7 separate regions of the Homo sapiens genome follow, and regions 1, 2, 3, 5, 6 and 7 are each reported to be linked to region 4. The links are microRNA targets in miRTarBase. Many come from high-throughput screens and were not tested one by one. Region 4 holds a microRNA gene; each other region holds the end of a gene's coding sequence.

The links. Region 4 holds the annotated microRNA hsa-miR-520h (ACAAAGUGCUUCCCUUUAGAGU, at 1,962-1,983, shown strand). A microRNA usually pairs through its seed, bases 2 to 8, with sites in the 3' UTR of a target mRNA and lowers its output. Matches are read on the target gene's strand: a 7mer-m8 pairs with bases 2 to 8, a 7mer-A1 pairs with bases 2 to 7 and ends in A, and an 8mer does both.
Region 1: the mRNA of FHDC1 is a reported target of hsa-miR-520h. Seed matches in the 3' UTR shown: 7mer-m8 at 3,033-3,039.
Region 2: the mRNA of RNF19B is a reported target of hsa-miR-520h. The part of its 3' UTR that is shown has no 7-base or 8-base seed match.
Region 3: miRTarBase lists ZNF785 as a target of hsa-miR-520h. The part of its 3' UTR that is shown has no 7-base or 8-base seed match.
Region 5: miRTarBase lists NEDD9 as a target of hsa-miR-520h. Seed matches in the 3' UTR shown: 7mer-m8 at 1,285-1,291.
Region 6: the mRNA of JARID2 is a reported target of hsa-miR-520h. Seed matches in the 3' UTR shown: 7mer-m8 at 3,047-3,053.
Region 7: miRTarBase lists RACGAP1 as a target of hsa-miR-520h. Seed matches in the 3' UTR shown: 7mer-m8 at 3,310-3,316 and 7mer-m8 at 2,600-2,606.

The regions. Positions count from the first base shown.
Region 1 is chr4:152,975,604-152,980,182 of GRCh38, reverse strand. FHDC1 (FH2 domain containing 1) reads right to left here. Exons shown (of 12, transcript NM_001371116.1): 12 at 512-4,579. The coding sequence ends at 3,460. Among named protein-coding and RNA genes, the nearest start is that of FHDC1, 42 kb to the right of the region's middle.
Region 2 is chr1:32,933,153-32,937,731 of GRCh38, reverse strand. It overlaps RNF19B (ring finger protein 19B), which reads left to right. Exons shown (of 9, transcript NM_001300826.2): 9 at 473-1,283. The coding sequence ends at 926. Among named protein-coding and RNA genes, the nearest start is that of RNF19B, 29 kb to the left of the region's middle. RefSeq lists an enhancer at 3,350-3,644 and a silencer at 3,350-3,644.
Region 3 is chr16:30,579,130-30,583,708 of GRCh38, reverse strand. ZNF785 (zinc finger protein 785) reads left to right here. Exons shown (of 3, transcript NM_152458.7): 3 at 266-3,053. The coding sequence ends at 1,149. It also overlaps a transcript of ZNF688 not described here. Among named protein-coding and RNA genes, the nearest start is that of ZNF785, 4.3 kb to the left of the region's middle.
Region 4 is chr19:53,720,259-53,724,837 of GRCh38, forward strand. MIR520G (microRNA 520g) reads left to right here and starts at 1,908; the gene lies at 1,908-1,997. It overlaps MIR517B (microRNA 517b), which reads left to right and starts at 818; the gene lies at 818-884.
Region 5 is chr6:11,182,505-11,185,504 of GRCh38, reverse strand. NEDD9 (neural precursor cell expressed, developmentally down-regulated 9) reads left to right here. Exons shown (of 7, transcript NM_006403.4): 7 at 1-2,207. The coding sequence ends at 343. Among named protein-coding and RNA genes, the nearest start is that of NEDD9, 49 kb to the left of the region's middle. RefSeq lists an enhancer at 1-481.
Region 6 is chr6:15,518,685-15,523,012 of GRCh38, forward strand. It overlaps JARID2 (jumonji and AT-rich interaction domain containing 2), which reads left to right. Exons shown (of 18, transcript NM_004973.4): 18 at 1,385-3,358. The coding sequence ends at 1,567. DTNBP1 (dystrobrevin binding protein 1) reads right to left here. Exons shown (of 10, transcript NM_032122.5): 10 at 4,123-4,328. The coding sequence ends at 4,291. Among named protein-coding and RNA genes, the nearest start is that of DTNBP1-AS1, 25 kb to the right of the region's middle.
Region 7 is chr12:49,986,757-49,991,335 of GRCh38, forward strand. It overlaps RACGAP1 (Rac GTPase activating protein 1), which reads right to left. Exons shown (of 17, transcript NM_001319999.2): 16 at 3,928-4,036; 17 at 2,406-3,587. The coding sequence ends at 3,512. Among named protein-coding and RNA genes, the nearest start is that of AQP6, 16 kb to the left of the region's middle.

The DNA.
Region 1 (4,579 bases), not on the chromosome of region 4:
GAGGTGTATCTGAGGCACAATCGCCACTCCTTTTCAAATATGCACAATGCCGGTCATATCAAGCCATCTCTCCCTCCTCTCTGCTCATTCCTGAGTCAGCCATGAGGTGAGTTGTGATTTCCTAATGGTGTCCTGAACCAAAATGCAGGACACCCAGGACACCATTTAGACTTGCCAGGCCCACGGAGATGACAAAAAACTCAGCTCAGCATGGAATAACGTGAGCTGCGCACTTCATCGACAGCCTGCGTGTCAGAGGCGGGGTTACATCCCCACGGCCTGGGGCAAGGCCCACTCCCTAAGCCCTCAATTATGAGCAGGTTCTGTGCTATCAAGAAGACACACAGCCAACAGCCTCATTTAGGCTCTTGAGCCTTTGGAGGACAAGTCAGCTGTATCCCAACCCTCCCTAGCCTCCTGGATCTCTGCTTCTCTCTGGGCAGGAAATTGAATACTCTCCCAGCAAGATCACACAGACACATCCATGGAAGAAGCTGAGATGAAACATGACTCTCATAAACAGGAACTTTATTAAACTACATGTTACATAAAAGAACATATAAATGGACCATTAAATACATTCAGTTTATTTTAAACAAATTTACATAGATACTTATTTACATTTCTCCATTGTATTCTTAAATTATTTTTCCAAGCTTACTACCGATAAAAGGTAATACAATGATCATCTGCTCACACAGATGCATAGAGAAGTTGTCCACAGGGCTAAGTAAAGCACCACTTCCCAGGAAACACAGCTTATTAGATCTTCCAGCAACAACTCATGCTGAAGGTGCTCTCTTCTGAGCAGCCCTTGAGGTGAGGCTTTTGCTTTAGAGATGCTGGGGGTTGGTTCTGAGGAGCTGACCCAGGGCAGAGATGGGTCCTTGCTGATTGACCTGACTTGGACTCACAGAGGTGGAAAGACCTGTGGAGACCATCATCGAGGCCATGGCCCCACATCTGTGATATGGGAAACAGGCTTGGGAAGAGGTGGTGACTTCCCAAAGTCACCCAGCATCCATGATAGAGGAAGGGCCTGGGAGCTTGGTACCCAGGGTTCCTCCAAGAGGTCCCGATCCCTCTGCTATCCACAAATCCACAAACTTAGAATCACTTGCATCCATTTTCCACCACCATGGACCTTATGCTTTGAACTGTTTTGTCTACCTGATTAAATATATAACTTCTTAGGCTTCTTGAGATGGTGAAAAGCAGCTCAGGATTCCCATAAGCAACTTTGTGGAGCCCTGGAAATACCTACTCAGGGCTGTTTTTACAAGAGGTTTTGTGGTCAGGTGCTTTACTATTTCAGCCATAACGTTTACCTTTAAAACTCAGCTGACTTATGGAAGCTCAGCATTTCCAATTCGCTTAGATGACAGGCAACAGTCTGCAGAAGGGAGGTTCTAACGTCAACCACGTGGATTCCCCACAAACGCATCATATTTGCCTAAATCCATCTATCTACCAATGTCAGATCTAAAATGAGGTTTCACTAATAAGTGACCTAAAATTAAAAAAAACACAAAAAAGTTTCTTAAAAAAAAAATTCCAAGAATTTCCCCGTTTCCCAATTAGTCTCAGAGGAGTCGTGAAATGGGCATTGGGTAGAAAAAGTCCCATGTTTTCAACTGTTTCTTTTGAATAAAGCCTGATTCCCCCACTCTGCCCCCGAACTTTTCCCGATGATATACATTCTTCTGAAAGCAATTTCATGCTTTTAGTCTGCTTTAAAAAACCTGACTTGGTTCTTCTCAGTATTTAAAAACCACTGTACCAAGGAAGAGATGTCCACGTTAAAAACTATTATTAAGAGACAGAGACAAGGAGAGAGAGACTCTCTCCAGGCCATGTTAGAAAAGAAGGAAGTGCTGGGAGCACACAAAGAGAGAAGAAAGGCTGGGAGACAGAATGGTTTGCACCTCCCTGTAACCAGAGTGAACACAGGTCATAGCAGCCTTCACTCAGTTTTATAACAGACACACGAATGGAGGAACATGGGATTGGAAAGACGCACACTGTCAAACAGCCCTGATGCCTTTCCACTAAAATATGGCACTTCTAGATTCCAGAGAAATCCAGCATTCTACCAGGGGCTGCCACCCATCTGCAGGGAAGCCTGCCCTGCAACCATGAGGCCCTCAAGGCTCATACTCCACTGCTCACAATGCGCGCCCTGAATACATGGAAGCATCTGATTTCTGTCTGAGTCCAACTTTCCCTCCTGTTCCTAGACAGACTCACACCCAGAGTCATGCACGGAGAAGTGGGCAAGCCAGACAATCTTCAGGGAGACACAGCCCATCACAGGATACCCAAGGCTTATGGGGAAGTCCAGTTGCCAGCAACGGACCCTGTGTGGGCAGGTGAAACTCTGAAGCCAGAGAACACAGGAAGATAAAAATATCTTCATACTGAGGATATACTGGCCAAGTGTGGTGGCTCACACCTGTAATCCCAGCACTTTGGGAGGCTGAGGTGGGAGGATCACTTGAGCCCAGGAGCTCGAGATCAGCCTGAGCAACATAGTGAGATCCCATCTCTACAAAAGATAAATTAAAAAAAAACAATTAACCAGGCGTGGTGGTGCACGCCTGTAGTCCCAGCTCTGAGGGAGGCTGAGGTGGGAGGATCACTTGGGTCTGGGAGGTCAAAGCTGCAGTGAGCTATGATTGTGCCACTGCAGTCCAGTCTGGGAGACAAGAGCACGACCCTGTCGCAAAAAAATACATATGTATTTTTTTCCTGGGAGGCATTTCACTCTGCAAAAGGAACCAAAACTAGAACATTTCATTTTTGTTTTGTTTTGTTTGAGACAAGGTCTCACTCTGTCATCCAGGCTGGAGTGCAGTGGTGGGGTCCTGGGCTCAAGTGACCTTCCCATCTCAGCGTTCAGAGTGGCTGGGGCCACAGGCATGTGCCACCACACTCGGCTAAATTTTGTATTTCTGATAGAGACGGGGTTTCTCCATGTTGCCTAGGCTGGTCTCGAACTCCTAGGCTCAAGCAATCCACTCATCTTAGCCTCCCAAAGTGCTGGATTACAGGCATGAACCACTGCACCTAGCTAATTTTTATATTAAAAAGAAAGTCTTTGATATATAAAAACTGGCCTGAAAAAAACTTTTTTGACTTGTTTCATAAGAATGTCACTTTACACTCCTACTAAATCTTTCTCGGGATCCGGGCTTTGGGGGAGGGTGGGGTGCATGGGGGAGGTGCGGCCGTCACAGTAGTGAACGTGCATCCATCTGGACGCTGGACTGCAGCAGGGCTCAGCACAGCAGGCTGCAGTCCACAGGCCTCCTGGACTGTGCCATCCCAACAGCGTCACTAGCAGTGGCACCAGTGGCTGCTTTATCTGTAACAAAGACATGCTGCCTCTTTCCCCATCCTCGTCCCAGAAGTCAGTCTTCACCGTCTGAATCCCAGGAGGCAGGAGAGGACAGGCACCCATCACTTCCGTAAGGGATTGAGGATTCTCCCCAGCGTGGTCCGACTGGAGTCCTTCCGACGGAGGGAGGCCCTTTCCCCAGCCCCTCTGGCCTTCAGAGGGGCCTCCGTGTTGGCACTGGGACCCTCCGCAGACTCTGGGCGCTTCTTGGGGGCCCGGGCACTGCTGGCTCGCCTCAAAGTGCTGCTGTCCTTGGGAGCGGCATCCTCGGGGTCCCCTTTCACCCTCAGCTGCCGCTGCGACACTGTCCGAGTGATGCCGGGGGCTTTGGCCACGGGAGGAAGATCTGTTCTCATGCTTCGAGAGGAGGAGGCCACTGTGTTCCGGGCAAAGCTCGGGACACGGGGTAGTTCGTGGGGGACGCTGGGCACTGACGGGGTCTTGGGCTCTTCTTTGGGACTCTCAGGGCCCTCGGAGTGGGCGCGGCAGGTCTTATTTTCCTCAGGCTTCTGTCTGGGGAGGTTCCTGAGTGGTTTGGCACTGGGCTTCTTGAAAGAACCCCTGGGCTGCAGGGGAACGTCCCTCCCCGGACGGGTGCTGCTGGAGCCGCTGCTCCCCCGCGGCAGCCTCTGCTCTTCGGCGCCTGTGGAGGCCCTCCGCACGGAGTTCTGGCGTGACCACACAGTATCTGTGCTGCTGGGGGGATTCTGGGAGGGCCCCCGGGATGACAGCTCTGGTCGCCTCCAGCCGGCGCCTCTGCTGGACTTGGTGATGGGCATGACCTTGCGCATGCTCTCGTTCTCTGAGGCGGTCAGGGTCCGCACAGACTTGGCCACTGCCCCCTGGCTCCGCCGGGCGCTCCCGGGCTTGGAGGCCCCGGGAGACGCCTCTTTCAGGGAGCCTCTCTTTGGTGCTACAACATCTTTCCTTTTGGTGGGTTTGTCCCTGGGCAGGCCGCCCTTGCAGCTGGGCTCACTATCCACAGAGACGGGGGCAGGAGCCTCCCCAGGGGGGCTGGATGTAGGGTTGGAGGAGACTTGGCTGTCCCCCATTTCTCCAACCCCAGAGGACATGGAGCCATCCCCTTCCCCGCCTTCCTCCGGGTCCCCGCCTCTGGGTCTGGAGTCGGTTCCCTCTGAGCAGTCCAGGGTCAGTGAGCAGTCGGTGGTGTCCGAGATGCAG
Region 2 (4,579 bases), not on the chromosome of region 4:
TTATTTTTATTTTTGTTTTTTTAGAGACAGGGTCTTGCTCTGTCAACCAGGCTGGAGTGCAGTGACACAATCATAACTCACTGCAGCCTTGAACTCCTGGGTTCAAGTGATCTTCCCATCTCAGCCTCCCGAGTAGCTGGGACTACAGGCACGTGCCTCCATGCCCAGCTAATTTTTTTTATTTTAGAAACAGGGTCTGACTTTGTTGCCCTGGCTGGTCTCAAACTCCTGGACTCAGGCAGTCCTCACACCTCGACCTCCCAAAGCGCTGGGGTTATAGGCATGAGCCACCACGTCCAGCCTCCATCTCATTTGAGTGTTAGATTAAAATGTTATTTTTGTTAAAAGTGAGCTCTAGTTAACTGTTCACCTATCTTTTTGAAATTCCTAATCCTGAACCCATGAACTGCTTTTACCAACAGGTTTAGCATGATCCATGCATGACTCAGCAAAGTGGATTTTGTCTCCACAGAGAATGCAACAATATGGAAATCCAAGTGGACATTGAAGCCAAACCAAGCCACTATCAGCTGGTGAGTGGAAGCAGCACGGAGGACTCGCTCCATGTTCATGCTCAGATGGCAGAGAATGAAGAAGAAGGTAGTGGTGGCGGAGGCAGTGAAGAGGATCCCCCCTGCAGACACCAAAGCTGTGAACAGAAAGACTGCCTGGCCAGCAAACCTTGGGACATCAGCCTGGCCCAGCCTGAAAGCATCCGCAGTGACCTAGAGAGTTCTGATGCACAGTCAGACGATGTGCCAGACATCACCTCAGATGAGTGTGGCTCCCCCCGCTCCCATACTGCAGCCTGCCCCTCGACCCCCAGAGCCCAAGGTGCACCGAGCCCAAGTGCCCATATGAACCTCTCTGCCCTAGCCGAGGGACAAACTGTCTTGAAGCCAGAAGGTGGAGAAGCCAGAGTATGAAGTGGAATGAATGCTCCTGTTCTGAGAAGCACACTTGTAACTGCATCTTTTGGAATTTTTTTTTTTTTTTTTCCAAGGGGTAGAGATTTATGTATTTTATTTCACAGATTCTCTGGTCACAGGTTTTTGCCCAGGGAAATTCTGAGAAATTCACAATTTCTTACCAGATAAAACATGAAAAGTTTGCCGTTAGTTCCCCTCCCCTCCCCTCCCTCTTTTTAGTTTTAATTTATTGGTTAAACTGATGGCAGCAATCCATGAGGTGTGTCAAAGAGTGTACATATGTATGTGTGTATATTGAATGCTAAACATATTACTGAAAGACACATTTTAATAAAGATTTCTGTCATAATTCAACTTACCTCATTTTCCTTGGCTTGGATAGTCCCACAGAGCCAAGTGTTTGAAACAAAGCACCATCTTTGACAGTCTCTAGACCTGAATTTTTCTAATCCAAGGGAAGAAGGATTGTATTCAAATCCAACCGCAGTAGTCATCTATAAACCTATGACTCCTAGCATGACAGGAAGCAAAGCTAGGCTTGTTTTGGACTTTGTAGTCAGGCTGAAGAATTATTAGCTGAGTCAGCTGAATAGGGAAGCAGTAGATTAAAACTAACTTTGTTTGCCCTCTAGAAGCAACTGTGCAATTTACTCTTAAAACTTTGCCCTTTTCTGCATTATAGTCACTAGTAGTCATATGCTTCAGAGGAGAGAAGGAGTGGCAGTCCCAGGTAGCTCTTAAGAGAATTCTCAGTGGTCAGGCATGGTGGCTCACGCCTGTAATCCCAGCACTTTGGGAGGCCGAGGCAGGTGGATCATTTGAGGCCAGCTGTTTGAGACCCACCTGGCCAACATGGTGAAACCACGCCTCTATTAAAAGTACAAAAATTAGCCAGGCGGTAGTTGCGCACGCCTGTAATCCCAGCTACTCAGGGGGCTGTGGCAGGAGAAGCGCTTGAGCCTGGGGAGGCAGAGGTTGCAGGGAGCCGACATCACTGCAACTCCAGACTGGGTGGCAGAGACCCTGTCTCAAAAAAAAAAGAGTTCTCAGTGAATGTTGCATGGTTACAAGTTGGAGAACAGAATATTCTGTTATTGGAGGAAGAAATACACTGATGCGCATAATCACAAAGCAATGACATAGGTGTTTGCTGTGTTCTCAGGTATACCACTCCGTGTTCTGATAAACTTTCTCAGTTTTGCTAATCTGGTTTAAATAAAAGGGACTAAAATCTGAGATTTGTAATGAAAGGAGGGGGTATGCCCTCAAAATCTCTGAACATATTTATCTGATCTTACAAATTTGTCAAAATTGAGCTAAGTTTGTACTACTTGGAGTTTTGCCTCTGTGTAAAATAATGTCCTGGCCGGGCACAGTGGCTCACGCCTGTAATCCCAGCACTTTGGGAGGCTGAGGCAGGTGGATCACCTGAGGTCAGGAGTTCGAGACCAGCCTGGCCAACATGGTGAAACCCCCGTTTCTACTAAAAATACAGAAGTTAGCCAGGCCTGGTGGCATGTGTCTGTAATTCCAGCTACTCGGGAGGCTGAGGCAGGAGAATCGCTTGAACCTGGGAGGTGCTGGTTGCAGTGAGCTGACATCACCCACTGCACTGCAGCCTGGGAGGCAGAGGGAGACTCCATCTCAAAAATAAAATAAAAAATAAAATAATGGGCTGGGCGCAGTGGTTCACACCTGCAATCCCAGCACTTTGGGAGGCCAAGGCGGGTGAATCACGAGGTCAGGAGATCAAGACCATCCTGGCCAACATGGTGAAACCCCGTCTCTACTAAAAATACAAAAATTAGCTGGGCGTGGTGGCGCACACCTGTAGTCCAGCTACTCGGGAGGCTGAGGCAGGAGAATCACTTGAACTCGGGAGGCGGATGTTGCAGTGAGCCGAGATCGCGCCTTTGCACTCCAGCCTGGGTGACAGAGTGAGACTCCGTCTGACAAAATAAAATAATGTCCTTAGAAGTGAAAGCTTATATACAGTATAGCAAGAAAATTAGAAGACTCGTGAAACCTGATGTCAGATTCCAAATCTTAGAGTGACTTACTTTGTATGAGTCAGTTTCATGCCCCTAACTTCCCCAACTTTCAGATCTTATTTATGTATTTAGAGACGGAGTCTGGCTCTGTCCCCCAGACTGGAGTGCAGTGGCATGATTTTGGCACACTGCAACCTCAGCCTCCCGGGTTCAAGTGATTCTCAAGTCTCAGACTCCCAAGTAGCTGGGATTACAGGTGCATGCCACCACACCCGGCTAATTTTTGTATTTTTAGTAGAGATGGGGTTTTGCCATTTTGGCCAGGCTGGTCTAGAACTCCTGACTCAAGTGATTCCCCCCACCTCAGCCTCCTAAAGTGCTGGGATTACAGGCATGAGCCACCTCGCCCGGCCCTCAGATTGCATTTAAAGAGCTTCCAGTGTCAGACCTCTCTCACCTTAGTCCTGGGCCCAGAGGAAAAATTGAAATCCTCCTTTCCCTGAAGACCAGATGACTTTCTGTTTCCTTTCACAGATGCACTTTTGTCTTCCTGGCCAGTGTTTTACTACAATGAGGATGGCAAGTCTGGACAACAGCCAGCTTAGAAGATTCTTATCTCTTGGGCACTGCAGCCAGACTTCACACATTTCCCTGCACCTAGGACAGGAAATGCTGTTAGTGGACTTTGGATTTCTGGAAGAATGTTCCCTGAAGGGGGCGTGTACTTGTGTGAAAAAGAGAACTTGTTGGAAAAAGAGGCAGACAGCCTGGAGATCTCTGAAACGCAAATTATCAACTCAAAACTTGGAATTCTCTTGAAGCCTCGAGAGAACAATTCACTTCTTTGATAAAATCAAAGAAGTCTGTTGGAGGGGCAGTAGTTTATGGCTAAACCTATATTTCTTATCTGGGTTCCACTTACTACAGCTGTGAGATTTGGGCAGTTTACTCTGAGTCTGTTTTCACTTAGCCAAAATGGAGATGATGATCCTAGTTAAGGGGTTGTGAAGACTGAGATGGTATACTGAAAATGTTTTTGGTAAAGGCCCATGTTTTTTCCTCCTGCAGGAAGAAGAAGAAATGAGTTAAAGGAGATTTTAGATATCATATAAGAAAGGAAGCCTAGACCTCTAGGCCAGAGGCTATGAAAAATTTAAATTTATTCTAATCCTTAGCGACACTTTAGTAGATGAAAAGGCCCATCATCACCACCTAGAGGCGAACACAAATAATGCATTAGAAAAGTTACAATAGCTTGGCCGGGCGTGGTGGCTCATGCCTGTAATCCCAGCACTTTGGGAGGCTGAGGCGGGCGGCTCACAAGGTCGGGAGATCGAGACCATCCTGGCTAACACGGGTGAAACCCCGTCTCTACTAAAAATACACAAAATTAGCCGGGCGTAGTGGTGGGCGCCTGTAGTCCCAGCAACTCGAGAGGCTGAGGCAGGAGAATGGCGTGAACCCGGGAGGCAAAGCTTGCAGTGAGCTGAGATTGCGCCACTGCACTCCAGCCTGGGCAACAGAGCGAGACTCCGTCTCACAAAAAAAAAAAAATAATAATAATAGCTTAGAAAATGGAGAAAGTTTAATTTCCTCTTCATACAGCCTTCATTCATTCTGAAATACCTACCGCATTTCAGGTATAAGATGTAGCAATGA
Region 3 (4,579 bases), not on the chromosome of region 4:
GACTCCTCTTTCATTATCTCCAGTGCTCAGGGCCTTCTTGTGTTAACCTGCAGACCATGGCATTTGCTTTTACTCCAGGCTGGCTTTCAGGGCTTCATGAGGCCCCTATCATTAAGCCGTGCTCCCTGGGCGCCATATTCTGAACCATTCCTGCTGCCTTCCAAGGCAGGACATGGTCCCGGAATATGCTGGTTTTGACTTTATCATCTTTCCTGTCTCAGGATCCAGGGATGAGTTTCTGATTTTATCATCTTCCCTGTTTCAGGATCCAGGGATGGGAATGAGGAGAAGGAAAGGCTGAAGAAGTGTCCAAAACAAAAAGAGGTGGCGCATGAAGTGGCTGTCAAGGAGTGGTGGCCCAGCGTCGCCTGCCCAGAGTTCTGCAACCCTAGGCAGAGCCCCATGAATCCCTGGCTCAAGGACACTCTGACCCGAAGACTGCCCCACTCTTGCCCAGACTGTGGCCGCAACTTCAGCTACCCTTCCCTCCTGGCCAGCCACCAGCGGGTCCACTCCGGGGAGCGGCCCTTCTCCTGCGGCCAGTGTCAGGCGCGTTTCTCCCAGCGCAGGTACCTGCTCCAGCATCAGTTCATCCACACCGGCGAGAAGCCCTACCCCTGCCCCGACTGCGGGCGCCGCTTCCGCCAGAGGGGTTCCCTGGCTATCCACAGGCGGGCTCACACCGGGGAGAAGCCTTACGCGTGCTCAGACTGCAAGAGTCGCTTCACTTACCCCTACCTGCTGGCCATCCACCAGCGCAAGCACACGGGCGAGAAGCCCTACAGCTGCCCCGATTGCAGCCTCCGTTTCGCCTACACCTCCCTGCTGGCCATCCACAGGCGCATACACACCGGCGAGAAGCCCTACCCCTGTCCTGACTGCGGCCGCCGCTTCACCTATTCTTCCCTCCTCCTCAGTCACCGGCGCATTCACTCCGACAGCCGGCCCTTCCCCTGCGTGGAGTGTGGGAAAGGCTTCAAGCGCAAGACCGCCCTGGAAGCCCATCGGTGGATCCACCGCTCCTGCAGCGAGAGGCGCGCGTGGCAGCAGGCCGTGGTGGGGCGTTCAGAGCCCATCCCTGTTTTGGGAGGCAAGGATCCCCCAGTTCACTTCCGGCACTTTCCAGATATATTTCAAGAGTGTGGGTGATGGCGTTCACACAAACTGGTCAGCGTTTCCCTGGAGAGGAAGAGGCAAGGTTTGTGTATTTGGGGGATAAGGAAAGGAAGTGGGCGTTTGAGGAAAACAAAGTTCTGCCTTAGGTAAAAAGCAGAGGTAGGGGCACAGAGGGCTGTGGGGAGGAGGCAGGAATCTGAAAAGGTGCCTGGGGGTTGACCCCATTTTCTGAAGCTCCAGCACACAGGGCCCCGTGTTCACGTCCCATCCTTCACTGAAAACCATTCACCTAACTGGCTTTTCCTTCATGATTGTTCTCTCCCTTGTAGCTCTCTGCTTTTTGGCCTGTATCTCTCCTACTCCTCTGAGATGGGGTCCCCTACATTCCAGTGCCTATTAAAGGAGCCTGCACCCACTCTGGACCCCCCAGAATAGAGGGGATACCTCAGGCCTGTCCCTCGGCTGGTGGGGGGGGCGGAGCTCATCCCAGGATTCTTTTCTTTTTTTTGAGATGGAGTCATGCTCTGTCGCCCAGGCTGGAGTGCAGTGGCGTGATCTCGGCTCACTGCAACCTCTGCCTCCTGGGTTCAAGCCATTCTCTGCCTCAGCCTTCCCATTAGCTGGGATTACAGGCATGCGCCACCAGGCCCAGCTAATTTTTGTGCTGTTAGTAGAGACGGGGTTCCACCATCTTGGCCAGGCTGGTCTTGAATTCCTGACCTCGTGATCCACCCGCCTCGGCGTCTCAAAGTGCTGGGATTACAAGCGTGAGCCACCGACCCCTGCCGAGGATTCTGCCTTTTACCAATGCAGGTGAAACATCTGGCAAGGAGACACCTGGAGTGTAGGTGTTCCTTGGTCTTGAAGACCTAGAGGTGGCCATAGAGAGGACAGTGGCCTCAGGTGGGGAACTCCCCCCCCACTCTCATTCTGCAAGTGCACAAACTATCAAACATAGCGGACTCTGGAACTGGGCCAACTCTTCACTGTATGCATTAGTGATTGCAGTGTTTTTTTCTTCTTCAGATATTTGCATGTTCCCTGGATTTTGTATTTTTTGATAAAGATATATTCTTGGGCCACAGTAGCTGGAGATATAATGCCGGAGGATTCTTTTTTTTTTTTTTTTTTTTGAGACAGAGTCTGTCTCTATTGCCTGGGCTGGAGTGCAGTGGCCCAAGCTACGCTCACTGCAAGCTCCACCTCCTGGGTTCACACCATTCTCCTGCTTCAGTCTCCCGAGTAGCTGGAATTACAAGCACCCGCCACCACGCCCAACTAATATTTTGTATTTTTAGTAGAGACGGGGGTTTCACCGTGTTAGCCAGGATGGTCTCGATCTCCTGACTTCGTGATCCTCCCGCCTCGGCCTCCCAAAGTGCTGGGATTACAGGCGTGAGCCACTGCACCCAGCCTCTTTTTTTTTTTGAGATGGAGTTTCGCTCTTGTTGCCCAGGCTAGAGTGCAATGGCATGATCTTGGCTCACTGCAACCTCCGCCTCCTAGGTTCAAGCGATTCTCCTGCCCCAGCCTCTTGAGTAGCTGGGATTACAGGCACCCACGACCATGCCTGGCTAATTGCATTTTTACTAGAGACAGGTTTCACCATGTTGGCCAGGCTGGTCTCCAATTCCTGACCTCAGGTGATCCACCCGACTTGGCCTCCCAAAGTTCTGGGATTACATTTTTTTTTTAAAGAAAGAATAAATTAATTGTGATTAAAGTTGAAATCAAGGCATAGTCTTTCCAGTCTAATTTTTACTGTAATGCTTGTATGTCAACAGTTATGAAGGCCAGGCGCGGTGGCTCACGCCTGTAATCCTAGCAGTTTGGGAGGCTGAGGAGGGTGGATCACTTAAGGTCAAGAGTTCAAGACCAGCCTGGCCAATATGGTGAAACCCCATCTCTACTAAAAATACCAAAAAAAAAAAAAAAAACGGCCAGGCACGTTGGCTCACACCTGTAATCCCAGCACTTTGGGAAGCCGAGGCGGGCAGATCACGAGGTCAGAAGATCGAGACCATCCTGGCTAACATGGTGAAACCCCGTCTGTACTAAAAATACAAAAAAATTAGCCAGGAGTGGTGGCAGGTGCCTGTAGTCCCAGCTACTTGGGAGGCTGAGGCAGGAGAATGGCGTGAACCCGGGAGGCGGAGCTTGCAGTGAGCCGAGACTGCGCCACTGCACTCCAGCCTGGGTGACAGAGCGAGACTCCGTCTCAAAAAAAAAAAAAAAAAATTAGCCAGGCCTGGTGGCGTGCACCTGTAATCCCAGCTTCTTGGGAGGCTGAGGCAGAAGAATGGCTTGAACCCAGGAGGTGGAGGTTGCAGTGAGCCAACATAGCGCCACTGCACTCCAGCCTGGGCAACAGAGCAAGACTCTATCTCAAAAAAAAAAAAAAAAAAAGGCCTGGTGTGGTGGCTCACGCCTGTAATCCCAGCACTTTGGGAGGCTGAGGTGGGTGGATCACGAGGTCAGGAGATCAAGACCATCCTGGCTCACACAGTGAAACCCCATCTCTACTAAAAATACAAAAAATTATCCGGGCATGGTGGCGGGCGTCTGTAGTCCCAGCTACTGGGGAGGCTGAGGCAGGAGAATGGCATGAACCCGGGAGGCGGAGCTTGCAGTGAGCTGAGATCGCGCCACTGCACTCCAGCCTGGGCGACAAAGTGAGACTCCAGTCTCAAAAAACAAAACAAAACAAAAAACAACAGTTAAGAGAGTTCTTTCTGGCCCATTTAGATCTGCTAGCCCTACTTTTGAAGAGGAAACTTTTGAAGGAATGAACAAAAGAGGTAGGTGGGACTAAGCATTTCTGCATTCCAGGACTGGTGGTCAGTGACTCAAATATCTCTTTGAAAAGACTGCTTCTTTGAATCCTTGGGTTCCAAGATAATTAATGGGAACTGGTGCCGGGCACGGTGGCTCACACCTGTGATCCCAGCACTGTGGGAGGCTGAGGCTGGTTAATCACTTGAGGTCAGGAGTTTGAGACCAGCTGGGCAATATAGTGAAACCCCATCTCTACCAAAAAATTAGCCAGGCGTGGTGGCACATGCCTGTAGTCCCAGCTACTCAGGAGGCTAAGGCAAGAGGATCACTTGAGCCTGGGAGACAGAGGTTGCAGTAAGCTGAGATGGCTCCATTGCACTCCAGCCTGGGCTACAAAGCAGGACTCTGTCTCAAAACAAAAACAGATACAAAAACTGGGAACGGGGTGTTATCTTTACTTCACCACATAGCCTCTCCTGAATTGGTGGACCTGGATTCCTAGCTTGGCTCAGTCCCCACTGGCTGTGTGGCCTTTAGCATCACCTAGATTCTACAAATAACATTTTTCTCTATTTGTTTTACACATGTCAATCTGCCTATCCATCCCTCTATCCATTCATTTATCCATTTTATTAATGTATTTCAAAGTAAGTTGCAGACATCATTACATTTCACTTCTAAACACTTC
Region 4 (4,579 bases):
GTTCTGTTTTGGTTTTGCTTTTTTATTCTAAGGCTCTGTGTTGCTCATGCTGGAGTGCAGTGACATGTCCAATATATCTCTTGGCTTCAAATGGTCAGCCTGGGCAACACAGGGAAATTCTGTCTCAAAAAATAAACAAATGAATAAAAATACAAAATAAAGCCGGGCATGGTGGCTCATGCCTGTAATCCCAGCACTTTGGGAGGCCGATGCAGGTAGATCATCTCAGGTCAGGAGTTTGAGACCAGTCTGACCAACGTGGTGAAAATCCGTCTCTACTAAAAATACAATAACAACAAAAATTAGCCCAGTGTGGTGGTGGGCACCTGTAATCCCAGCTACTTAGGAGGCTGAGGCAGGAGAATTGCTTGAACCCGGGAGGCAGAGGCTGCAGTGAGCCGAGATTGTGCCACAGCATCCAGCCAGGATGACAGAGTGAGATTCCGTCTGAAAAAAAAAAAAAAAAAAAAAAGCTGGGCGCTGTGGCTCACGCCTGTAATCCCACCACTTTGAAAGGCCGAGGCGGGTGGATCACGAGGTCAGGAGATCGAGACCATCCTGGCTAACACGGTGAAACCCCATCTCTATTTAAAAATACAAAAAATTAGCGAGGCGTGGTGGTGGGTGCCTGTAGTCCCAGCTACCCGGGAGGCTAAGGCTTGAGAATGGCTTGAACCCAGGAGGCGGAGCTTGCAGTGAGCCGAGATCGTGCCATTGCACTCTAGCCTCGGCAACAGAGCAAGACTCCGTCAAAAAGAAACAAAAACAAAAACAAAAAAAAGAACCCTACAGTACTGGAGCAAGAAGACCTCATGCTGTGACCCTCTAGATGGAAGCACTGTCTGTTGTCTAAGAAAAGATCGTGCATCCCTTTAGAGTGTTACTGTTTGAGAAAAGCAACGTTGAAGATGCTGCTGATCTTGGTAATACATTTGCAGAGCGTGCTTATCATCAGACTTGCATGATGTTGGGGTTCTCTTTGGTTTGTTTTTTTCCAAGACAGGTTCCCTGTTGCCCAGGCGGGAGTGGGTGGCACCTCCAACCGAGATCTCTTGGGCTCAAGTGGTGATCTTTTTATTTTTGATTTTTTGAGATGCGCTCTCATTCCGTTTCCCAGGCTGGAGTGCAGCGGCAGGATCCCTGTTGACCGGAAACTCCGCCTCCCAGCTTCCGGCGATTCTCCCACCTCAGCCTGCCGAATAGTTGGGAATAGAGATGCCCGCCATCGTGTCCTGCTAGTTATTATTTTTATTGTTGTTGTTGTTGTTGAGATGGAGTTTCACTCTTGATGTCCAGGCTGGAGTGCAGTGTTGCAATTTAGGCTCACTGCAACCTCCACCTCCTGGGTTCAAGCGATTCTCCTGCCGCAGCCTCCTGGGTAGCTGGGATTACAGGTGCCTACTGCCCCACCCAGCTAATTTTTGTGTTTTGAATAGAGACTGGGTTTCACCATGTTGGGCAGGCTGGTCTCAAACTCCCGACCTCAGGTGATCCACCAGCCTTGGCCTCCTAAAGTGCTGGGATTACAGGCGTGAGCCACCGCCCCTAATCTCACGTGGTCCTCTAGAGTCAGCCTAGACTCTGGTCTATCCTGGAGGATGTTTGTGTGTGAGACAATGTATATTCTTCAACATCAGCCCAATTCTCTTAGCTAAATGTAAGGTATGAGTAGTAGGTATTCCTTTTTCTCTTTGGGGACAAAACTCAGGACGATCGCCCCTTGATGAACAAGGCTAACCTGCTGAGCCTTTGAAGCAAGGAATTGGAGATGGTCCTTTCAGGGGTTTATGTTCTGGATTCCATAAAACATGTAAACAGGGCCAATAAATGCATTTTTATTTTTGTATCCGTTTTAACCTGGTCAAGGAAAATTCCAACAAGAAACCCAGAGTGCTGGAGCAAGAAGATCCCATGCTGTGACCCTCTAGAGGAAGCACTTTCTGTTTGTTGTCTGAGAAAAAACAAAGTGCTTCCCTTTAGAGTGTTACCGTTTGGGAAAAGCAGTGTTGAAGTTGATGCTGATGTTGGTAATATATTTGCATGCTTATTATCAGACTTGGATGATGTTGGGGTTCTGTTTTGTTTTTGTTTTCTAAGACAGGGTCTCTGTGGCCCAGGCTGGAGTACAGAGGCACTTCCAACCTAGGTCTCTTGGGCTCATATGGTCCTTTTTGGGACAGTCTTCCTCTGTGACCCAGGCTGGAGTGCAGTGGCACGATCTTGGCTCACTGCAATCTCCACCTCGCGGGTTCAAGCTATTCTCCTGCCTCAGCTTCCTGAATAGCTGGGATTGCAGGGGCCCGACATCACACTTGGCTAATATTTGTATTTTTCTTTTTTATTCATTTATTTATTTTTGAGATGGAGTCTCGTTTCCCCAGCTGGAGAGCGGTGGCATGATCCCGACTGACTCCAACCTCTGCCTCTCAGGTTCAAGCAATTCTCCTGCCTCAGCCTCTGAAGTAGCTGAAACTACAGGTGGCCGCCACCACGCCTGGCTACGTTTTGAATTTTTTTTTTTTTTTTTTTCAGTAGAGATGGGGCTTACCATGTTGGCCAGGCTGGTCTCAAACCCCTGACCTCAAGTGAGCCACTCACCTTGGCCTCCGAAAATGCTGAGAATACAGGCATGAGCCACCACCGCGCGCCTCCCAAAGGCGTGAGCCATGGTGCGTGGCCATCAACACCTCTTACTTTATGGAAATTTTTCTGGCACTGGTATAGAACCTCACATGGGGTCAGGTGGAGTTGAGGGGACCTCAGTGTCCCTGCAGATGGGATGAGCAAGAGCACGGAGGTGGAGTGCATGGGGCTTCAGTGTGTATTGGGGAAATGAAGCTGAAATCTTGGGTGCATGACCAGGAGATAAATGCATGAGACGGGGGTCTCACTATGCTGCCCTGGCTAAAGTGGTCTTAGATCCTCCTGCCTCTGCCCCTCCCAGGCCTTGTTAGATGGGACTACATGTAAATATTAACCCATGCACAGGCAGGAAGAAAGTAAGGACCATTTTTTGGTTCGTCCCGGCCCTCAGTTAAACTTGTGTTTTAGATAAACAATGTATTTGAGATGTGCTTAAACAATAAATGATACGCTATTTAGGTGTGGGCATCTTTGTTTCCCCCTAATTTTAATGATGGGACTAGTCCAGGTATGGTGGCTCCTGCCTATAATTCCAGCACTTTGGGAGGCCGAGACAGGAGGATCACCTGAGGTCAGTTGTTCGAGACCGGCCTGGCCAACATGGTGAAACCCCGTCCATACTAAAAATACAAAAATCAGCCAGGCCTGGTTGCACACACCTGTAATCCCAGCTACTCGGGAGGCTGAGGCAGGAGACTCGCTTGAAGCCAGGAGGCTGAGCTTTCAGTGAGCTGAGATTGCGCCACTGCATTCCAGCCTGGGCAACTGAGTGAGTCTCAGTGTCAACAAAGTAAATAATAGTCTAGGCACAGCGGCACACGCCTGTAATCCCAGCACTTTAGGAGGCTAAGACGGGAGGATCACCTGAGGTCAGGAGTTCAAGACCAACGGGGCCAACGTGGCAAAGCCTTGTCTCTACTAAAACTACAAAAATTAGCTGGGTGCGGTGGTGCACATCTGTGATTCCAGCTACTCGGGAGGCCAAGACAGGAGAACCACTTGAACCCAGGAGGAGGCGATTTCAGTGAGCTGTAATGAAGCCATGGCATTCCAGCCTGGGCCACAGAGCAAGATTCCGTCTCAAAAATAAATAAAACAAATAAAAATACGTAGATAAATACGGGACCGTCGTGAATTTGAGTGTCACCTTTGTGGAGCAGCCACGGTAATCTCTGTCATTCCAATTTTTTTTATGTGCACTACCAAAGCAAGAACTTGTGTAGGAATTATTCTTCCTGTGAGTATGCGATGTATGGAACTTTCCTTGAGACAGGGTCTCAAAAATATATCATGTATATTTTATATATTCTTATCATATATAATATAATCATGTACACACAAAATACTCTTCTAAATACAGAGAATACTCTGATATCACCTTGCGTATTTTTTGTTTGCATGTGTCTGTGTTTGGTTGTTTTTTTTTTGTCATATTTTTGTATCCCTACTTATATATTTATTTTTAATTTTATTATTATACTTTAAGTTCTAGGGTACATGTGCACAACGTGCAGGTTAGTTACATATGTATACATGTGCCATGCTGGTGTGCTGCACCCATTAACTCATCATTTAGCATTAGGTATATCTCCTAATGCTATCCCTCCCCGCTACCCCCACCCAACAACAGTCCCCGGTGTGTGATGTTCCCCTTCCTGTGTCCATGTGTTCTCATTGTTCAGTTCCCACCTATGAGTGAGAACATGCGGTGTTTGGTTTTTTGTCCTTGCGATAGTTTGCTGAGAATGATGGTTTCCAGTTTCATCCATGTCCCTACAAAGGGGTTGGTTATTTTTGAGACAAGGTCTGACTCTATCGCCCAGGCTGGAGTGTAGTGGTGCCATCTCGGCTCACTGCAACCTCCACCTCCCACCTAATCCTGCTGAATTAGTGTCTGCAGGCATGCACAACCACATCTGGCTCACTTTTGTATTTT
Region 5 (3,000 bases), not on the chromosome of region 4:
CCTTCTCAACGCCATTGACGCACTCTTCAGTTGTGTCAGCTCAGCCCAGCCCCCGCGAATCTTCGTGGCACACAGCAAGTTTGTCATCCTCAGTGCACACAAACTGGTGTTCATTGGAGACACGCTGACACGGCAGGTGACTGCCCAGGACATTCGCAACAAAGTCATGAACTCCAGCAACCAGCTCTGCGAGCAGCTCAAGACCATAGTCATGGCAACCAAGATGGCCGCCCTCCATTACCCCAGCACCACGGCCCTGCAGGAAATGGTGCACCAAGTGACAGACCTTTCTAGAAATGCCCAGCTGTTCAAGCGCTCTTTGCTGGAGATGGCAACGTTCTGAGAAGAAAAAAAAGAGGAAGGGGACTGCGTTAACGGTTACTAAGGAAAACTGGAAATACTGTCTGGTTTTTGTAAATGTTATCTATTTTTGTAGATATTTTATATAAAAATGAAATATTTTAACATTTTATGGGTCAGTCAACTTTCAGAAATTCAGGGAGCTGGAGAGGGAAATCTTTTTTTTTCCCCCTGAGTGGTTCTTATGTATACATAGAAGTATCTGAGACATAAACTGTACAGAAAACTTGTCCACGTGCTTTTGTATGCCCATGTATTCATGTTTGTTTGTAGATGTTTGTCTGATGCATTTCATTAAAAAAAAAACCATGAATTACGAAGCACCTTAGTAAGCACCTTCTAATGCTGCATTTTTTTTGTTGTTGTTAAAAACATACCAGCTGGTTATAATATTGTTCTCCACGTCCTTGTGATGATTCTGAGCCTGGCACTCCCAAATCTGGGAAGCATAGTTTATTTGCAAGTGTTCACCTTCCAAATCATGAGGCATAGCATGACTTATTCTTGTTTGGAAAACTCTTTTCAAAACTGACCATCTTAAACACATGATGGCCAAGTGCCCAAAAGCCCTCTTGCGGAGCAAATTTCAGAATATATATGTGGATCCAAGCTCTGATAGTTCAGGTGCTGGAGGGAAGAGAGACCTGTGTGTTTAGAGGCCAGGACCACAGTTAGGATTGGGTTGTTTCAATACTGAGAGACAGCTACAATAAAAGGAGAGCAATTGCCTCCCTGGGGCTGTTCAATCTTCTGCATTTGTGAGTGGTTCAGTCATGAGGTTTTCCAAAAGATGTTTTTAGAGTTGTAAAAACCATATTTGCAGCAAAGATTTACAAAGGCGTATCAGACTATGATTGTTCACCAAAATAGGGGAATGGTTTGATCCGCCAGTTGCAAGTAGAGGCCTTTCTGACTCTTAATATTCACTTTGGTGCTACTACCCCCATTACCTGAGGGAAACTGGCCAGGTCCTTGATCATGGAACTATAGAGCTACCAGGACATATCCTGCTCTCTAAGGGAATTTATTGCTATCTTGCACCTTCTTTAAAACTCACATATGCAGACCTGACACTCAAGAGTGGCTAGCTACACAGAGTCCATCTAATTTTTGCAACTTCCTGTGGCCAGTGTGTATAACCCCTTCCACTATCTCACAGATAGTCACAGCGTCCATTCCATAGTCTGTCTCCTCACATCTGTTAGTATTGACACAGCACAGACACCACAAGCCATCAGGTTCTTCATGGGGCAGGTGAAATACTTCTACCCCATGGGTAAATGTATTCACATATTACCAAGAGAAGAAGCACATTATCTATGATCTTTTGGCCCAGTTCTTATTTAGCATTTTTATTCCAGCCTACTTGGAAACATGTTTTTATTTGCAATATATGCCTGACTGAATTAAGCTTGCTTGTTTTAAACAACCAAATCATTGGAACAGAAAAGGATTTAAAAAACAAGAATGCATGATCTCAGAGTGATTAAAAAAAAATCAGTGGAAATAAATGATCATAGAAGGTGCTTTTCAAAACAACTGCTATTATAATTCTCAAAGTCCTACTCTGCCAAAAGAAGATTAAAAGTCATACATTACATTACAAGGAAATGTTCATGTGGGAAGAGGGTTGCTGAAAATCAACAACGCTTGAAGTTAAAAAGTGTGTCTTTGTAGATTTCATTGTATAATGTGTATTTCTTAGGAGATGGCTGACTTGATTGATCTACGCTAAGTGGAGACATTTCACATTTTTAAAACCAAATGTTCAATCTGTATTACTCTTTGCCGTCTTGTATGTAGAGGCTATTTTTAAATCATTAAATTTTTAGATCTCTGTTTTCATAGCCACTGGGTTTTCTTTTTCATACTCCTCTGTCACAGAATTAAATATTGGCTTACTTTGGTACTCCTAATATAAAAAGTTAAATTATGATTATTTTAGCAATGCTATAGGTCTGGATTTTTTTAGGAAAATTGAGGGTTTGGTTTTCTCTGTATATGTGTCACTTCCAAGTGTATTTGCATTCAAAGAAAATTCTAGAATCTGTGAACATTATCAAATTCAAATATCTGGAACAAGACTTGTGTTCACCAAAAAACCCATACACTCAGTAACATATAGGATGATTTGTTTTCATAATATGGATGTTACCAGTCATGTGGTTTTTAGAATCAAAGAAAATTTTTCTATTTGTTTTGGAATAGTCATAAAGAAATAATTTAAAGCAAACTATATTTAATGAAAATAAGAGATTTGTAATCATGTAATTATCATTTTTAATGGTTGGCCCACTCTTTTATTCAGGTATCCCACTGAGATTTACAGACAAATTATTTAAATGTATCATGTACCATTTTGCCCACACATATAAGCATTAATTTATTTTTGACAAAATGTCAAGGCACTTCAAGGAGGGAATGAAAACTCTTCCGAAAAAAAAAGTGGTGCGGGAACAACTAGATCTATGAAATAAAATGAATGTGTACCTTACGTTCTACCCAAAGATTAACCCAAATGGATCATAGACCTAAATGTAAAACTTAAAACTCCTAGAAGAAAACACAGGAGAAAATCTTTGTTATCTTAGGTAGACAAAATTTCCATATTTGAAACACTTTAAAAACTTAACTCAGAAA
Region 6 (4,328 bases), not on the chromosome of region 4:
TTGGTCAGGCTGGTCTCAAACTCCTGACCTCAGGTGATCAGCTTGCTTCAGCCTCCCAAAGTGCTGGGATTACAGGCGTGAGCCACCACACCTGGCCCATTCTTTTAAATAGGAAATTTCTACCTTGTAAACAGAGACCATTGCAAAATCTTCTCAACCTCCCAGTGTGCCCAGTACACAAATCACCCATGTCTGGGCCTGCTGACCCGGGACAGTCTGCTTTAAACACCCACCCTTGCTGGGGTGGGGGGTGCACCTAGATTGCAAATCCCTGAATTCATGGCTTGGGTTCTCATGGATGGTGAAGCTCTCTGGGGAGTTTGGAGCCATTTGTGTCTCTGGCCCTTGCAGGCTGGCTGAGCAGGGTGTTGGGCCGCCTGCCGCCGAGCCTAGTGTGAGAGCACTGGTCTGGGGCAGGTGCTGCCCACCTGTCGAGCTGCACGCAGGGGAGGGAACGGTGTCCTCCTGTAACCGCACACTGCCGCTCCTCCTCACTTGTCCTTATGGTAAGGTAGCAGTAGCCGCCTAAATGGGTTTTATGGCAGCTCATCCACTTATCCTTTATCAGTGTTTATCATCAGTACCTCAAGCAGCCATGACTATGGTGTTATTACAGATACGTGTGGACCGCCCCGCCTTCCGAAGGCACCTTTAACTTGTGATGGGAGCCAGCTGTCACTTTCTCACCCTCATCTTGAGGGCTTTTCAGAGGACTAGAGATCAGGCCCTCAGATGTTTCATTCCATGGCTGGCTTCCTCTCCTGCCAGGGTCAGCATGGTTCCCAGCCACCCGTGGCCCAGAGAGATGCTCATAAGATGCACGTTTGCTACTCCTCCCCATGTTGTTTTTAAAAATGATATGATTATAGGATGTACTGTGTGAAAGTTACAAACACAGTTTTTGGTGCCGACAGATAAATGATTCTCTTGAGTGAATTACAAGGATATGTATAGGTTGAGAAGTGTTTGCATTTACTTGCATGGCCAGGTTCAGTGGCCGGTAGCTAAAGTGAGTCAAGTAGCTTGGGTATTTGTGTCACCATCCAGGATGTAACAAAGCCCCTGGGTCTCTTTGCTGAGTGCTCCGTGGTAGAGGCAGTGCTCTGGGCTCCCCTGCCAGCCCTGCCCTTATGAGCAGGCAAAGCATGGTGGACCAGGGTGTTGATGAGGATGAAACGGCCATGCCTGCTATGTGGCATCAGGAGGAGCTGGGAAAGGGAGACTCACTGCATCTGAGCCTCTCGGGGTTATTTTAAAACCTGTTGGTTGGTGTGGTGAAGGGGACCGCTGCCCTCTGCCCTAAACTTGCCCCTGCATGGCTCTCAGGGACAGAGCTCTTGTTAATACGGTATGTTAACTGTGTCTTCCTTTCACCCCCAAACAGGAACAGATTATCAGTCTGGTCAATCAGATCTGCGGCAAAGTGTCTGGTAAAAACGGCAGCATTGAGAACTGTCTCAGTAAACCCACACCAAAAAGAGGTCCCCGCAAGAGAGCGACAGTGGACGTGCCCCCCTCCCGTCTGTCAGCCTCCAGTTCATCCAAAAGTGCTTCGAGCTCATCATGAAGATGCCAACGCCCGTGGTCGATTTATATATATTTTTTTGTAATTATTATATTCTAGTTTGGAGTACTTGCTGTAGGATTCAAGCTGTCTTTGCACTAGCTCTAAAGAAGATTTTCTTCTGGTTTTAGAGAACTAATTTTGTTTTAGCATTAAACTGTTGAACTTTTTTTTGTACTTAGAAAACCTAGATACTGCAGTCAGATTTTGGAAACTGCCGTATAGTCACTGTTTTAAAAACCCCGGAGGGGCTGTATTAATTTGTATTGCCCCATGGCTGACAAAAGCCTTTTTTTTTGGTTTTGATTTTTTTTTTTTTGTAACTGTTGGGGGGAAAAAGGCTTTTTAACCCATTTTTGAAGAGGGTGAAGTTTGGAGAACAAATTTAAAAACCATCAGTCATGTGAGCAGATTTTTTAGAAGGGATAGGAGACACACGCGCACACACACACACACACGAAACTTGAAATGGCTTTGCTTTGGCTGTCGTCTTCTGCCGTGTGCCAGATGAGCTTGTGATCTGGGAAGCCGGGGCACCCCCGTTTTGTTTCTCTGGGCGGTTGTGGCAGCTGAAGGCGGACGTTGTTTCCTAACCATAGGTGGAACGAGGAGACGGGAGCGAGTGGGCTCTCCACCAGCACATCACTATGCATCTGTTCCAGGAAAGAAGAAAAGCGAGCGAGGAAGACGGAAAAGACTGCCTGCCTTGGAGGGGTCACATGAGGGAGACCTGTGCCTGATTTCATTAGGAAATCCATTCTGTTATTTTTTGGTGCTGTTGGCTACTTTATCAAAAAACCCTTCAATAGCATCCTTAAGATTTAAAAAAAAAAAAAAAAAAAAGGAAAAAAAAGTGATGGAAGCCGTAAGTGCTTCTTTGTCATCGACGTGCAATCTTTCTAACATTCCATCTCCATCTCACCGCTTCTTGTTTGACACCTTCACAAGTCAGCATTAATCTTTCTTTTAAAACTTGTTTCATTTATGATCATGTAGAGAGCCACTAGGAGGCCTGCAGTTATTTTTGAATGTGAAAATGCATTTGCGTTCATCTTGTCTATTTTTTCTCTTCATGTTGTAACAAAAAGGAAAAAAGAAAAAAAAATCCCATCCCTTTTGTACATATGCCTGTAAATTGTTTTAAATACTTGAGCCTTTTTCTCGGTGGGGGGTGGGGAGGGGGGTGAGAAGACAAGATGAAGAAAAGCCTTACATTTCAGTTTCTTCATCGGTTGGATTGGATGCTTACAGGGTTTTTCTTGTAACATTTATAAGTGCTGCTTACATCACTGAACAACAACAAAAAAATAATAATGGAGTAGCTGTTGCCCTTCTCCGGTTGTGTGTACAGTATGTGTGGAATAAAAAAGGGAAACTGTTTTCACAAGCTGTTCTTTGTTTCATAATTGGATTCATCAATCCCGTAGCTACCCATATTGCACTGAGCTTGCCAGTGGTGACTGCCAGGAACGTCCTATGATCCACTTTGTTGGTTGTTGTTGCAGAAGACTGAACTGTTTTGGAATATTTAACAATTACAGAAACAGTCAAGTGTTTTCCAATGTGGTTGTCCGGTTTCTATGGCCTTGCTGTGTACTTTCCCTCTTTTTGACAGTAAACTTCTGCCTATGGCTTACAGTTTGACATTTAATTTATTAGCGCTGCTCTGCACCCCTCCCTTGGGAGGGAGACTTCATGTGGTTTATTGCGAGTTTTTTGTTTACTTTTCAGGTTTGTACTACAAGGTTTAATAATAAAAACAAAGTTTTTTGGACATTTGTCTGTCTTGTGGAAGATGACTGAATGGAATGAGCTCTTTCTTTTCTCGTCCACGGGCAGGGGGCAGAGGATTCCCCCCAGCCAGGGAGCAGAGCCACCCCCCACACTGCAGTCCTGCTCCCACCTGCCACTGGGTCCCCTTCAGCCTAACCTAATGGTTTCCATGTGGCCTGCGGCCGTCCCCCTCATTTCCCATCGAGCTGCGCCCCCCTGCTGAGCTTGCTTTCATGATGAGACGACACTGGGTGCATTCAGGGTGGTATGGCTGCAGACAGACAGACCCCCTCATCCCGGCGGGGAGTCTGTCCCCTCTCTCTCATTGGGCTGGAGGAGTGATGGCAGGAACACATCTCCAGGGGACCAGTTTCTTTTCATAAAGAATGGAGGATTGCTTTGGGCTTGTTTCTGTTCTTTTGGGCCCAGGAGTGTGAAAAAGTAGGGGTTGGACTGGCTGGCTACTGGACTAATGATACTTACTTACTTCTGTAATGATCAACGGAAAACCCCAAGCTTTGCCAGAGTGGTTTGGCTACAGTCAGCTCTTCTACAGGAAGTGGCATTTTCCACTTGTGAAACGGTAGGTCATTCCCTGCCTCATGCAGAACTCAGCCCTGTGGAGCCTCCACCACCTGGCCCAGGCCCTGCCCACATGCAACCTCCCGGGGTGGCCCTCAATGACCTGCACGTCCCTTCACTCTAAGGAACCCTGAGTTACAGTGGCCTTAAGGACATGTGTATTTAGAAGCCTTTGTGTACAAACTAGCTCTGTGCGCTCTCAGTTTACCGTCCTCACACTTTATTGTTAGCTGTTCTTTAAGTTTCTCACACATTATTGGCAATTATGTAAAAATCAAGAACCTCTATAAAACAACCTGGCTTTCCAGGTGGAATTCCGCATACAGCCAAAACTGGATTCCAGTGTGGCCAGACAACGCCCATGTCCCAATTTAAGAGTCGCTGTCCTCACCACCATCCGGAGTGGCCT
Region 7 (4,579 bases), not on the chromosome of region 4:
ACCATATCAATCTATCTGAAGCTAGATAGGTGTGCAGGTAGACCCTACCATAACAAAACAAAAGCAGCAAGCCTGGTATCTTTGCTCCCTGTACTCCCTCAGCTCTCCTTGTCATTTTGTGCTGCCTAATAATTTAAGCATGCAAGAACTGGCTGGGCACAATGGCTCATGCCTGTAATCCCAGCACTTTGTTGGGAGGCTGCAGCAGGAGGATCACTTAAGTCCAGAAGTTTGAGACCAACCTGGGCAACATCGTGAGACCCTGTCTCTATAAAAAATTTAAAAATTAGCTGGGCATGGTGGGGCATGCCTGTTGTCCCAGCTACTTGGGAGGCATAAAATAAATAATAAAATAAAAAGAACACAAGACCAATTTCAATGCCACAGGCTCAGTTCATAACCAAAAATGAGTACTTTTTTCCCCTGGTAAATCAATTGCGCACCCTAAATGTCCTCTGACCAAAACTCACATTCCTTCTTCTATCTCTGCAAGCAATGAATTCACCCTCTTAAGGAAGGATAAGTTGTTAAACACCCAGTAATAAACTCAAATTGTTGCAGCTGAATCCAACCATGTAATGCTTGCCCAGTTAGATAAACATCAAACTAGGGAGTCTTACATAGATCAGGGAGAATAAAGGTAAATATCACAACTTAAAGATTCTGTTTATTAGCAAGTGCGATAGTAAAATTAAACTGCATTAAAAGAGAGGAATGTCAGAAAGGGTTAGGAGTAAGAGATGGACTGATGGCTACTCCAAAGCACTGGACCCCCTTCCACAGCCCTCACATTGAGGAGGTATAATTAAGAAGGCCCTGGAAAGTCAGGCTGTTCCGCAGGAAGTACTGTTAAAGAAGTTGAAGGTGGGTATATATTTCCCTTTGCTATTATCAGAATTATTTTCATGGCTAAGGTCTCTTGGCCTAGCCCAAAAACTGAGCAAATGGTTGCCAACATTTGACACACAGGACCATTTCCTTTTTCGTTAATGGACCATTGGTTCCTGCATAGGGTAGCCTTGCCTTCACTAATGTTACACAATCCATTTACTTCCTCTACATTAGTGACTGAAAATGCACCTTGGGGAGATACTACAGAACAGCAAATATGGAACCAGGCCAACGCTAGGATTGCAAAGACATAAGAAAAGAGGTAGCATCTAGGGCAGTTTTAAAAAACAAGGCCTAGCAGGCGTGTGTGAAAGGGGGTATGGGACCCATCCTCTGTCAATTTGCTGAGGCAGATGGGCCCTGCTGTGAAGCTGCCCCCTCCTGGGAAAAAAGCCAGTAGGTTGCCTCCTCTCTCCACAGTTACATATTAAGCCTACAACTGTTTACGTTCAATCTCAGATACATTCTGTTCACCAGCTTCAGAGTTCCAAGTGCAGGTGCCCTCAGTTAATCATCCCAGCTCACTCCAAAGTCACTTCCAGCAGTGAAGGATGTTCTAGGCAGTCAGCCAGCCAGAGGCAATTTTTTTTTTTATCTGCACCATTCTGGTCCCTAAAGACTTGTTTAAAAAGTTGTTGTTGTTGTTTTATTTTTTAAGTACAGTCACACACTACATAACGTTTTGATCAATAAGGGATCCCATATACAACAGTAGTCACATAAGATTATAATAACCATAGTTTTACTGTACCCTTTCTATGTTTAGATACATAAATACTTACCATGCGTTACAGCTGCCTACAGTGTTCAGAACAGTCACATGATGTACAGGTTTGTAGCCTAGGAGCAATAGGCTATACCATACAGCCTAGGTGTGTAGTAGGCCACACCATCCAGGTTAGTTTAAGGACACTCAGGTTCACACAACAATGAAATCACCTAATGAAGCACCTCTCAGAATGTATCCCTGTCATTATGCAACTCATGACTGTGGTTTCTTTAAACAAGACAACAGGCATAGGACAACTCTACAACTCCAGTTTGGACAAAGAGAGACTGGATGAGAAATGAAGAAACAAACTCCCGGTGGTGGTAAGCCTGGGGTGGGTCCAGAGAGTGGGAAATGGGGATGAACAACAGAGTCAAGACACTTTGAAGGAAGTAATTTTTTCTTTTTTTTTTTTTGTGACAGGGTCTCACACTCTGTCACCCAGGCTGGAGTGCAGTGGCACGATCTCAGCTCACTGCAACCTCTGCCTCCCAGGCTCAATTTTCCCACATTAGCTTCCCAAGTAGCTGGGACCACAGGTGTGCACCACCACGCCCAGTTAATTTTGTATTTTTTGTAGAGACAGAGTTTGGCCATATCTCAAACTCTTGACCTCAGGTGATCCACCTATCTTGGCCTCCCAAAGTGCTGGGATTAGAGGCATAAGCCACCAAGCCCAGCCCCAGAAATGATTTTCTAAAAGGCATTGAAAATTACCTTGCAAGACAAGAAAACCAGCCTCATGTTCATTTTGAAAAAGCTATTTACTTTTTTTCCAAATATTATCCCAAATAGGTGTTTTACAGATAAGGGTCAATACGAAGTCAAACATTCTACAGAAGAAAATCGTTTTTACAGACATTAAGAATAATTTTAACAGAAGAAAAAGCTCACATCTATCTAGATGTGGCTATGTTCCATGGGAAAAATTTCAGCATCCAAAGTGCAAAGAAAAAATGACTGTAGCTTTTCTTACCACAAAATATTGACAATCTTCCCTTATAGCCTACTCTTTATTGTTAGTTGGGATGCCAAAGGATGATATATTGACCTTTAGAAGTTGGGCTCCACTGGACAAGGTTGGGGGTATGGGGGCCAAGCATCAGAATGAATTCAATTTTAAAAGAAAAACTGGCTTTGACCCCAAATGAACCCAAAGTTCAGCCAGCAGCACATCAGAGATAAATACGAGTTGTACTTTCACATTTACAAGGTTGTGCCACTCAACACTATTAAAGACCTAATCATCCAAATCAAAGCTACGCATACTCCCATCACTAGTTCTGTCCTCAATGCATCCCATTTTTATGAAAGCTCCATATTATAGCTCAGTTCATAATGGGGAATGAGAACTTCTGGTTCTTAGAAGGAGGCATCCTAAATCCTCTGGTCTAATCCTTTCTTTGCCCTGCCCTCCCACTTCCCACCCTGAGACAAGCTAATCTTATCAGATAGGTAGGGTTTCTGTCATTGTCTCACGGAAATCAGTTCTAAATGAAACTAGAGAAAGATCATTCTATGAGCAGCATTTGGCTTTAAGCCAAAGGAACAATAACCCCCTTCCCCAAAAAGAATCACAACCAATTCCATACTAACCCTTCTACCCCTGGAAAGATGTCTCATCTAAAAGCTCCCAACAATGACCAGCACAAAGTGCTGATATTATGTGACTTGAGGAGAAGGAAGGGGAGATATATATAGTTTTAATAAAACCCTCATGCACAATTAAACTTGAGTAAAAGCCTGGAGAATGCTAAAAGTAGTAATGAGTACAGGAGGCTGCAGAGCAGAGTACAGATGTGTCCTTTCTTATAGTCAGTCAATGCTGGGAAGTAACAGGCAGATGTGACTTCACTTGAGCATTGGAGAAGCAAAAAAGTTGCCTTGTCGTCCTAGGTTAGTGGCAGACTTGCTTTTGCTCCCAAATCTACAATAAAAAGAGAATGAACTGGAAAAATATTCTATAAAAAATGGTTGAATAAACAACTATAATATTACTTGATATAACCCATTATAAGTAGGAAACCCTAGACAACTATTTTGCAATAGTTGCTTAAGTATTCTTAGTCACCAACAACGAGAGAGGGGAAATAGTAAAGACTTTCAGAACCTTTTTAAAGAAGGAATCCTTATAGCCCCACGTTCCCTTTTAAAGTCTAGTTGCTAGCTAAAATCGAATGCAATTTTTCTTTCAATAAGCTTCAATATAATAAGAAGTCTAAGAAAGTAGTTGTTTTTTATTTCCTAGGAAGGCCAATTCTGCATACCTAGGAGTGTTCTTGGTGAGGGTGGAACGGACTCTCTGTGACAGGGAACTAGATGAAGGAGTCTTGAGAAGCTGATGTTCAGGAGTGGTCACAGGTCCCAGTAAACTCACTTCAAAGTTCAGACATATTTTTAAGAGAGGTGGGAAAAAAGAAGGCATCTTTTTAGATGGCTAGTTTTAAGCTGATTACCCTCTGAAGCACTTAAGAGCTAAGGTTAGACATCTAGCAAAGTCCCAGAGATCATTTTTGTCATCATTCTGTAACACACTAGTGTATCTTTTGAACTCAATGAATAGCTGACACGTCCTGATTTAGGCCATTCTCTAACTCCACACTTCACAAATCTAACATCTAAACATCTGACTTTTAGCTATACTAGAAGAAGCAATATGCTCCCTTAGAAGGAACTTGCAATAATGAAAGAATGGGTCTCCAATGCCAGTGAGACTGGAGTGAAACCAGCCTATTCATATAAAATTGTTGGTTAGCAATATAAATTGGCAAAAGCCTATAAGAAATTTAATAAATCAAGTTGGTAAAACATACCAAGACACATAAAAATGTTCAAGCCATTTAATTCAGTGATCCCACTCTTAGGAATTTATCATTAAGAGAAATGCTATATTGACTATAGCATTACTTGTAATTATGA